Linked DNA regions of Homo sapiens: region 2 is linked to region 1. The links come from fine-mapping of genetic effects on gene expression. Tissue or cell type: prefrontal cortex. Region 1 holds a variant in brackets; the other region holds the start of a gene. All regions are shown on one strand. Distances are from middle to middle.

What was found. PIP is the estimated chance that this variant, and not a neighbour inherited with it, causes the effect.
Region 2: GLDC starts here. The variant in region 1 is fine-mapped to the expression of GLDC in prefrontal cortex (BrainSeq, PIP 0.95).

What each region holds. Positions count from the first base shown.
Region 1 is chr9:6,529,886-6,535,088 of GRCh38, reverse strand. It overlaps GLDC (glycine decarboxylase), which reads left to right. Exons shown (of 25, transcript NM_000170.3): 24 at 301-381; 25 at 1,929-2,622. The coding sequence ends at 2,072. Among named protein-coding and RNA genes, the nearest start is that of GLDC, 110 kb to the left of the region's middle. The variant C/T (reference allele first, on the strand shown) is at 2,545.
Region 2 is chr9:6,643,327-6,648,456 of GRCh38, reverse strand. It overlaps GLDC (glycine decarboxylase), which reads left to right and starts at 2,728. Exons shown (of 25, transcript NM_000170.3): 1 at 2,728-3,212; 2 at 3,765-3,843. The coding sequence starts at 2,958. RefSeq lists enhancers at 1-178, 179-734, 1,721-1,820, 1,871-1,980, 2,961-3,518 and silencers at 2,651-2,900, 2,971-3,170, 3,211-3,280.

The DNA.
Region 1 (5,203 bases):
CTGGGATGGGGATATACAGGCAGCACCAAACGTGTAGGTAATTTTTTCTAAAAGATGAAGCAAATATGACAGAATGCTCATTAGACTTTACTGGGTGGTGGATGTGATGATTATTACCATAACGTTCTGATATTTAAAATATTTCACAATTATAAATCACATTGTACCCCCCTAAATTGAAAGAAAACAACAGCTTTCTCTGCCTGGGCTCCTGTCAGAAGATTGACGGTTGAGGTGCAGGGTAGGAGGAGAAGAGAGTGTATTGCTCTGACCCCTCCTCTGTCCGTGTCTCTGTCTCAGATGTCTCCACACTCCCTGACCTGCGTTACATCTTCCCACTGGGACCGGCCTTATTCCAGAGAGGTGGCAGCATTCCCACTCGTAAGTTCTCTGAATCTGAATGTGCCAGCTGGGAAGGCATGGGCCAGCTCCTATCCTGACGGGTGTACGCTCTTAGCCTCATGATTACAGAAACCATATGTGGGGCACCTTGTGAAATAAGGGTCTTGAAGAGGAATGAGGAGCAAAGAAATTGGCTTTCAGAGGCGAGGTCACACAGTATCAACCACAGATCTGGGAACCCATAGGGAACAGAGTGGGGGAAAACTGAATACGAGTCCTGCCCAGTGGACCAATGTGTTTCCCTCCACTGTGGGACAGGGAGATGGCGCCCAGTGCAACCTTCCTTTCCTTTCTGATTCTTATATGGAGGAGAAGGTTCTGTGTAGTCTGTTTGAGTGAGGTAGGGAGAAGGCTAAAAATGTGCCAAATTATGCTATGTGCTGTTTATGGATCTATGCAGTAATAGTATAAAAACATAATGAGAATGGTAAATCCTGTATTCATTGGAGAGGAGAGGAAACAAAATGATGCTTTTTTTTTCTTTCTTTTTTTTTTTTTTTTTTTGAGACGGAGTCTCGCTCTGTTGCCCAGGCTGGAGTGCAGTGGCATGATCCTGGGTTCACGCCATTCTCCTACCTCAGCCTCCCGCTGGGACTACAGGCGCCTGCCACCATGCCCGGGTAATTTTTTGTATTTTTAGTAGAGACGGGGTTTCACTGTGTTAGCCAGGAAGGTCTTGATCTCCTGAACTCGTGATCCGCCCACCCCGGCCTCCCAAAGTGCTGGGATTACAGGCGTGAGCCATCACGCCCAGCTGATGCTTTTTTTTTAATCGTTCAAATTTTTATTTTAATACACAGTATGAGAAATTAACTTTTTTTTTTTTTTGAGATAGAGTTTTACTCTTGTTGTCCAGGCTGGAGTGCAATGGCACCATCTCGGCTCACCACAACCTCTGCCTCCCAGGTTAAAGCGATTCTCCTACCTTAGCCTCCCAAGTAACTGGGATTACAGGCATGTGCCACCATGCCTGGCTAATTTTGCATTTTTAGTAGAGATGGGGTTTCTCCATGTCGATCAGGCTGGTCTCGAACCTCTGACCTCAGCTGATCTGCCTGCCTTGGCCTCCCAAAGTTCTGGGATTAAAGGCACGAGCCACTGCGCCCAGCCGAGAAATTAACTTTTAAATCAACTGAATTGTATGGAAAATGACATAGCAAATAAATTAGACCTATGTTAAAAGAGAAGGTCAGCTAAATATCCAAACTTAAGGATATAATGGGCAGATAAACATAGATTCCAAAGTCTTCTTTAAGCAGTTGAAGTCTTTCAAACACAACTTTGCTATAAACTGGTCCAGATATCAACAGCACATAGGGATGCTTAACAGGGGTGGTGATCAGGGACACGCCTCCTGGGAAATGCCTCTTTTTTTTAAATGGTAATGTAGGGTTGGATTTTAGGTTCTCAGAATATTTGCTGGGCTGATGGTGTCTTAGGTTGTGGGACTAGCATTGCCACCTCCTTTGCCCTAAGAGAAACCTCCCAGAACATCTCACAGCATTTCCATCTTTTGTCCTTTGCAGCCCTTCGTGAAACCAGAGAACAAATTCTGGCCAACGATTGCCCGGATTGATGACATATATGGAGATCAGCACCTGGTTTGTACCTGCCCACCCATGGAAGTTTATGAGTCTCCATTTTCTGAACAAAAGAGGGCGTCTTCTTAGTCCTCTGTCCCTAAGTTTAAAGGACTGATTTGATGCCTCTCCCCAGAGCATTTGATAAGCAAGAAAGATTTCATCTCCCACCCCAGCCTCAAGTAGGAGTTTTATATACTGTGTATATCTCTGTAATCTCTGTCAAGGTAAATGTAAATACAGTAGCTGGAGGGAGTCGAAGCTGATGGTTGGAAGACGGATTTGCTTTGGTATTCTGCTTCCACATGTGCCAGTTGCCTGGATTGGGAGCCATTTTGTGTTTTGCGTAGAAAGTTTTAGGAACTTTAACTTTTAATGTGGCAAGTTTGCAGATGTCATAGAGGCTATCCTGGAGACTTAATAGACATTTTTTTGTTCCAAAAGAGTCCATGTGGACTGTGCCATCTGTGGGAAATCCCAGGGCAAATGTTTACATTTTGTATACCCTGAAGAACTCTTTTTCCTCTAATATGCCTAATCTGTAATCACATTTCTGAGTGTT[C/T]TCCTCTTTTTCTGTGTGAGGTTTTTTTTTTTTTAATCTGCATTTATTAGTATTCTAATAAAAGCATCTTGATCGGAAGAATGCCTTTCTCTTGGTGTACTTTATAGTTTTACCACCGTTACAACCTAGATTCAGTGGGAGCTGAAGGGCAATGAGAACACCCAACCCAATAGCCATTGTTACATCATCAGTTTTGCCTTCGACTGGCTGAAGAAACAGTTGTCTTGGTCAACAGTGAAAACCACTTTGACCCTTTTTGTTGGAACTGAGTTAGAGTGCATGTAACTGTACTCCAGCTATGGAAGGTCAATCAAATAGCAATTTATCTTTTCTCATTTAAGTCCAGAGGTAATAAGCCAAGCACTGGTGCTCCTTCAGTTTTCCCGCTCTGCCCTCCTTTGCATAAAATTTTCATCCGCATGGTCTCAAGAAGGCTGTTGCATTTCCAGGCGTCTGACATACCCATTCTAGTTAGGATTAAAAGGGAAGAGCAAAGGCCAGGCGCGGTGGCTCATGCCTGTAATCCCAGCACTTTGGGAGGCTGAGGCGGGAGGATCACCTGAGGTCAGGAGTTGGAGACCAGCCTGGCCAACATGGTGAAACCCCATCTCTACTAAAAATACAAAAAATTAGCCGGGCATGGTGGTGCATACCTGTAGTCCCAGCTACTTGGGAGGCTGAGGTGGGAGAATTGCTTGAACCTGGGAGGCAGAGGTTGCAGTGAGCTGAGATTGCACCACTGCACTCCAGCCTGGGCAACAGAGTGAGACCTTGTCTCAAAAAAAAAAAAAAAAGAAGAGCAAAAGGCAGCTTCCACCCAAATCTGCTTCTTTTGAAATGTTTTCGAATATGTTCCACTCAGTAACTGCTGCAGCTGGCCAAAATTGGTTCAAATCTCACTCCCAGCTACAAGAAAGTGTGGGGAAGTCTGTTACCTGGGCATGTGACTGCCCCAAACAAAATCAGGAGTATGTTAATTTTTAAAAAGGTGGGGAGAATGGGTTTTAGGTTGGCAACTAGCATGCCTGCCACAAATGACTTTGCCTTAGAAGTAGCAAATGCTCTAATCATGACTACTTGGTTTCTTGCATGGCTGCTTCCTCCAACATTACTTAGTATCCCTAGGCTTTAATGCTAGTGATCTGGGTGCTCTATTGAATTATCTGCAAGTATTCCACTTATTTTTATATTTAAAAAGTTTATACAACAATTTACTTTAGCCTAACAAAGCAGTACAGAAGTGATGGGATTCACGGTTCCTTTTTTACACAATAATTAAATGATATCTATTAAATAGTGCATCTCAGGTATCAGGCAATTTTTTTTTTTTTTTTTTTTTTTTTTGAGACAGAGTCTCATTCTTGTCACCCAGGCTGGAGTGCATTGGTGCAATCTCGGCTCACTGCAACCTCTACCTCCCAGGTTCAAGTGATTCTCCTGCCTCAGTCTCCTGAGTAGCTGGGATTACAGGTGCCCACCACGAGGCCCAGCTAATTTGTGTACTTTTAGTAGATACGGGGTTTTGCCATGTTGGCCAGGCTGGTCTCGAACTCCTAACCTCAGGCCTCCAACTCCTGACCTCAGCCTCTCAAAGTGCTGGGATTACAGGCGTGAGTCACCATGCCCAGCTTGGTATTCTTTTAAGTGTTTGAAATACTACCTCATTTGACCCTCACAATGTTCCACTCTTACACATGTGGGGAAGGGTATGAAGAGATGCCTAAAGTCCCACTACCAGCCAGTAAGAGGGAGGGGCAGAATTTGGACCCAGCCTTACTGGCTCCAGTACCTATCAGCCAAAACAGGATACCCTGCTGCCATGGCAACTGCAGACCTGGGGACTCTGCCCTTCCTGAGTTGGAAACCCTGCTTAGTGCAAGCTAGCCATCAGGCCCTGGGACGGCCCCTTCCTAGGAAGGACAAGTGTATGACAGTAAATAATGGAAGCAAACAGCAATTCTTTTCTACTTACTTTACACAGTGTTTGTAGTTGAGTGCCAAGGTTGTTTCCATGGCTATTATCCATTACTTGCCCCCAGAACATAGCAGAGCCAAACATAGGCGATTAAGAGTCAAGTGAATCACTTGTCCTTCACTATTAATTGCTCATGTGTTACCTAACACTTGTGCCAGTCTTTCCCTGCCCCGGATCTTATCCTGAAAGGCACTGCCCCTTGAAGCCCTGTCCCCAGTCACCTTGCTTTACTAGTCATTCTCTGTATTTCATCCTAGCCATTTTCTGTATTTCATCATTTCAAAAATACCTTCTTCATATCCCCATGAAATAGGCTTTCTCTGTTATCTTCTATCTTGCCCCTTGGTTTGTTTCCTCCTGTACCCTGGGCACAACTGGTAATTTTTTTTTTTTTTTTTTTAACAGAGTCTTGCTCTTTTGCCCAGGCTGGAGTGCAGTGGCACGATCTCGGCTCACTGCAAGCTCCACCTGCCGGGTTCACACCATTCTCCTGCCTCAGCCTCCTGAGTTGCTGGGACTACAGGCGCCCACCACCACGCCTGGCTAATTTTTTGTATTTTTAGTAAAGGCGGGTTTCACCATGTTAGCCAGGATGGTCTCGATCTCCTGACCTCGTGATTCGCCCGCCTCGGCCTCCCAAAATGCTGGGATTACAGGCATGAGCCACCGCGCCCGGCCCACAAT
Region 2 (5,130 bases), 110 kb before region 1:
CCCAAGACTTTAGGAGTTGCAGGCCAGGAAATGGGATGAATACCAGATATGTATTTCACAACATCACACAGACAAATAAACAAAAAACACTCAATGCATTTCAAGCAGAGGAGAATTAAATGTCAGGAATGGGTGCATACAAAACCACTGGAAGAACTGGAAGAGCAAAAACCAGGGAATACCAACGCTATCTTCAGGTCAACCACTGAAGCTCTAGTCTAGTACACAGAAATTCCTGCTGGGGAACTGCAGGACATTCCCATTGGTGGATACAGCTTCCCAGCTACCTCAAGATGGGGTGCTGGTAAGGAAGCATGTCATGTCTGCAGTGGTCCATGCATCTGTCTGCTGCAGTCAGAAAATAAGAAAACAGTTTTTACCTTTGTTCCATTTCCCAATTCTCTCTCTCTCTCTTTTTTTTTTTTTAGGCAGAGTCTTGCTCTATCACCCAGGTTGGAGTGCAGTGGTGCGCTCTCCGCTCACTGCAACCTCTGTTTCCCAGGTTCAAGTGATTCTCATGCCTTAGCCTCCTGAGTAGCTAGGACTACAAGCACGCCCACCAAACTTGGCTAAATTTTTTTTCATATTTGTAGTAGAGATTGAGTTTCGCCATCTTGGCCAAGCTGGTCTTGAACTCCTGTCCTCAAGTGACCTGCCCGCCTCGGCCTCCCAAAGTGCTGGGATTACAGGAGTGAGCCACCGCACCCGGCCCCAATTCTCATATACATATATGTGTGTATATATACATGTTTTTTTTTGGCAGAAGGCAAATAACATCCATCACCACGGAGCCAAAGGGATCTGGGAATTATTGTTCCCTGGCTTCCAGTCCCTCTGATACATAGAAACAACATAGACAGGAATAGGAATAAATGCAGATTACCTCCTCCCTCCAATCCTTCCCCACAACCCCCACCATCTGGCACTGAGGAGATCTCCCAACTTTTATGAAGGTTGTAATTTCAATTCCAAATGGCCGAAAAACTTTTCGGAGACATTCAGCCCAGCCGTCCTAGCTCACCACCCGCCTCCGTCTGCCATACAGACATTTTACCTACTGTTCTTTGTGGTGTATTTTCCTGCCCTCTTTTCCATCTCTACTTTCCTGCCTCTCTGGATAGTCTGTGCCTCCTGGGTACGGAGCCCAGAATCTGTTAAGGGTGATTGGAGGAGGAAACTTAGCAGATAAGCAAGAAAGAGAACAGGTTTTATTTTCCCCTAGTCTAAGTACAAGTAATGTTCTGATTACTTCTGTCCTCTCTTCCCCATATTAGAACAACTGGAATTTTAAAAGTTCATTCTCTTGCTAAAACTGTCATGAGACAGCTGGAGATGGTACATTTACAAAAAATCCAGTTCTAGATGGCTAACTTTCAAAGTAAGACGACAGTGAACAATGTCTATCTTAATATCCTTTGTACTTTTGCTGGGCGCAGTGGCTCACGCCTGTAATGACGGATCACGAGGTCAGGAGATCGAGACCATCCTGCCTAAAACGGTGAAACCCCGTCTCTACTAAAAATAAAAATAAAAAATGGCCGGCCGTGGTGGCACGTGCCTGTAGTCCCAGCTACTCAGGAGCCTGAGGCAGGACAATCGCTTGAACCCGGGAGGTGGAGGTTGCAGTGAGCCAAGATCGCGCCACTGCACTCCAGCCAGGGCGACAGAGCGAGATTCCGTCTCAAAAACAACAACAAAATATCCTTTGTAGTTTTACACACACACGTATATGTATATACAGTACATATATTTAAAAAAACATATACACACACACACACAGTTCTTTTTTTTTTTTTTTTCCTGAGTCTCGTTCTGTGGCCCACGCTGGAGTGCAGTGGTGCGATCACATCTCACTGCAGCCTGAAACTCCCTGACTCAAGCAATCCTCCCACCTCAGCCTCCAGAGTAGCTGGGACTTCAGAAGCACGCAACCACGCCCCACTAATTTTTGTATTTTTTGTAGAGACAGGGTTTCACAATGCTGCCCAAGCTGGTCTCGAACTCCTGGGCTCAAGCTATCCTACCGCGTCGGTTTCCGAAAGTGTTGCGATTACAGGCGTGAGCCATAGCGTTACATGTGGTGGGGGGGAAGAGAGAGAAAGAGAGAGAGTGAGAAGAAGGAGGAGGAGGAGGAGGAGGAGAAAGAAGGAAGAAAGAAAAGAAAAGAAATATAGAGAGGGTGTTCAAATCTACTGTTCAAGTGCTTTCCATGTACATATAATCTCTTTTTAAAATCCCATCCAGCTCTGTTGAGATGAGAAAACTGAAGCTCTGAGAGGTTGAGTAACTTTATCACGCTCCCGCAAAGATAAAAGAACCGCCATCTGCCCATATTAATTTCCCTGAGATGAAATGTGACAGAGAAAGATACCTCAAAATTAAGGAAATGGAGAGCTTCGAGAATCATCTTCCATCTCCGCCGAGTCCCCCAGGAACTTGGCCCGGAGTCTTTGGGCTGTCCCACCTGATCTTGCCCCAGTGCGGCTCCACACCCTGGCGGGCGGCGTACGGAGCGTCCCGGCCCCCGGCACCAGCCAGCGTCGGAGTGGGTAGGACTGGAGATGGCAGCCTCCGGTCCAGGGGAAGCGGGACTCCACGGAAGGGCTGGGAAGAGGGTAGGAAGAGGGGGCGGGGGCGGGAACTGTTCCGCCCCCTCCCCCTCTGTCTACTTTCATTGGCCAAGGGCTTCCTGGCCCCAACCCACCTCCCGCCTCCAGGGCGCCGCTTAAAGTGTGCGGAGCAGGTGCCTTGGGTGGAGCCACAACTTTGCGCGAGTGTCTTGGTTGAGCGCAGCGCCCATTCATTGCCCGCGAGCGTCCATCCATCTGTCCGGCCGACTGTCCAGCGAAAGGGGCTCCAGGCCGGGCGCAGCCGCCACCCGGGGGACCGAGGCCAGGAGAGGGGCCAAGAGCGCGGCTGACCCTTGCGGGCCGGGGCAGGGGACGGTGGCCGCGGCCATGCAGTCCTGTGCCAGGGCGTGGGGGCTGCGCCTGGGCCGCGGGGTCGGGGGCGGCCGCCGCCTGGCTGGGGGATCGGGGCCGTGCTGGGCGCCGCGGAGCCGGGACAGCAGCAGTGGCGGCGGGGACAGCGCCGCGGCTGGGGCCTCGCGCCTCCTGGAGCGCCTTCTGCCCAGACACGACGACTTCGCTCGGAGGCACATCGGCCCTGGGGACAAAGACCAGAGAGAGATGCTGCAGACCTTGGGGCTGGCGGTAAGGACCTCCACCCGGCCCTCCGCGGCCTCCCCTCCGCCCTGCCCGGGCTCTGCCTGCGCGGCCTCCCGGCTCCTACCCTGAGCTCTGCTGCGCTCCGCGTGGTCCCCGCACCCTGGGTCCCGGGCCGTGGCGTGGAAGCAAATTCGTGCCTTTGGTCCTCGTGCCTTCTTACTTCTTAACAGCTTACTTTCTCCTGCACCCAGTCTTCGTGCCTCAAAAGTGTACATTTTTAAACCACCCCCAGCCCAAGTGGCCCTGTGGATGGACCTAAACTTTGCAAGAGGAGGAAGACCCCCTGATTAAGAGTGGGCTTACCGGTTAGCTCCGGTTGCAACTGAAATCCAACCCCGAGTGGCGGAATCTCCACCCCACTTCACGATTTTCTTTCCTCCAAATCATTCTGGCTTGCTCAGAGTTTTCCTTTTCTTTTAAAAAGAACCCTAATTAGGCGATTTCAATGAGGTTCCCACAAGGCTTTGTAGTCGCAAAACACAGAGGTGACTCTTTTAACTCAGAGGCACTTTCCTCTGCCTTGCGTTTTAATTTTAGAGCATTGATGAATTGATCGAGAAGACGGTCCCTGCCAACATCCGTTTGAAAAGACCCTTGAAAATGGAAGACCCTGTTTGTAAGTGGCCGGGAGGGCTCCCTTGGACTTAGATTATTCTGGCCTATTTGTCTTTTGTGGTTCCCTGAAAATCGAGCTCTGGGGTAAGGATTGCTCAGGACTGGGAATGTGTGGATTAAAATAAAACAGTGGCGGGTACCTCCGGAGCCGCGGGAAGGTGGGATATTTGGTTCTCGGAGCAGACAGTTTTGTGTTAGGAGAGAGTCGGTGTTGTGCGGTTCTTGGTCTTTATCCTAGGGCCCCCGCGAGCTTCCCCTGCGTTTTGTAGCAGATTCCCCACTTCCCAGGCACCCTCTCACCGGCCAGGGTGCTCTCATACTTTGGGTTGAGAGGTGTCATTACCTGCGCAGACCCGGATAGACTCAAAGGATCTAGGAATTGCCTAAGGTCGTGCAACTGGGGAAGTGACCAGACATCTCGCCTCCCTCCCCCAGGCTTCTTTAGATCGCAGTATCTTCCAATTGTTTTCTTACCTCACGTCCAAATTTTATTATTTACCAACTGAAAGACAGCAGTACTTTTCGAGTCCGAATGGTTTTTCTTTTCTTTTCTTTTTTTTTTCGTTTTTTTTTTTTTTTTTTTTTGAGACAGAATCTCTGTCGCCCAGGCTGGAGTGCTGTGGCTTGATCTCGGCTCACTGCAACCTCCGCCTCCCTGGTTCAAGCAATTCTCCTGCCTCAGCCTCTTGACTAGCTGGGATTACAGGGGCGCACCACCACACCAGGCTCATTTTTATATTTTTATTAGAGACAGGGTTTCTTCATGTTGGCCAGGCTGGTGTCGAACTCCTGACCTCAGGCAATCCGTCTGCCTCGGCCTCCCAAAATGCTGGGATTACAGGCACGAGTCACTGTGCCCTACCCCGAATGGTTTTTCTAGAAAAACACACAAATAAGATTTACATTTGTTTAAGAAAGGTCAGTTTAGTCATAGACTTTCTTAGAATTTTATTTTAGGTTTAAAATATTTTTAATGGTCCAAGATTGCTTTTCAGGGGTATTTTTATGTGGGTATTTGACTTCCATGGGGTGGGGGGACAATCCATAAGTCAAGGGCACAGGCTGAGCTCTTAAAAAAAATCTCATCTGGTTATCTCACTTTCAATCATGGAGATACTTATCTCTTTTTCTTCTAGAGTCAAATGAAGAGAGAGCAGCTGTTTTATTTTGTTGCTATGATAGAAAGGATCTAGTGTGCAGATGGCAAGCTTTATTTTGTTTGAAGGTGGACATTTGAGGTATGGAGCCTATCTGCTTCAGGTTGGCTGCTCAGGCTATGCTGAGGGCT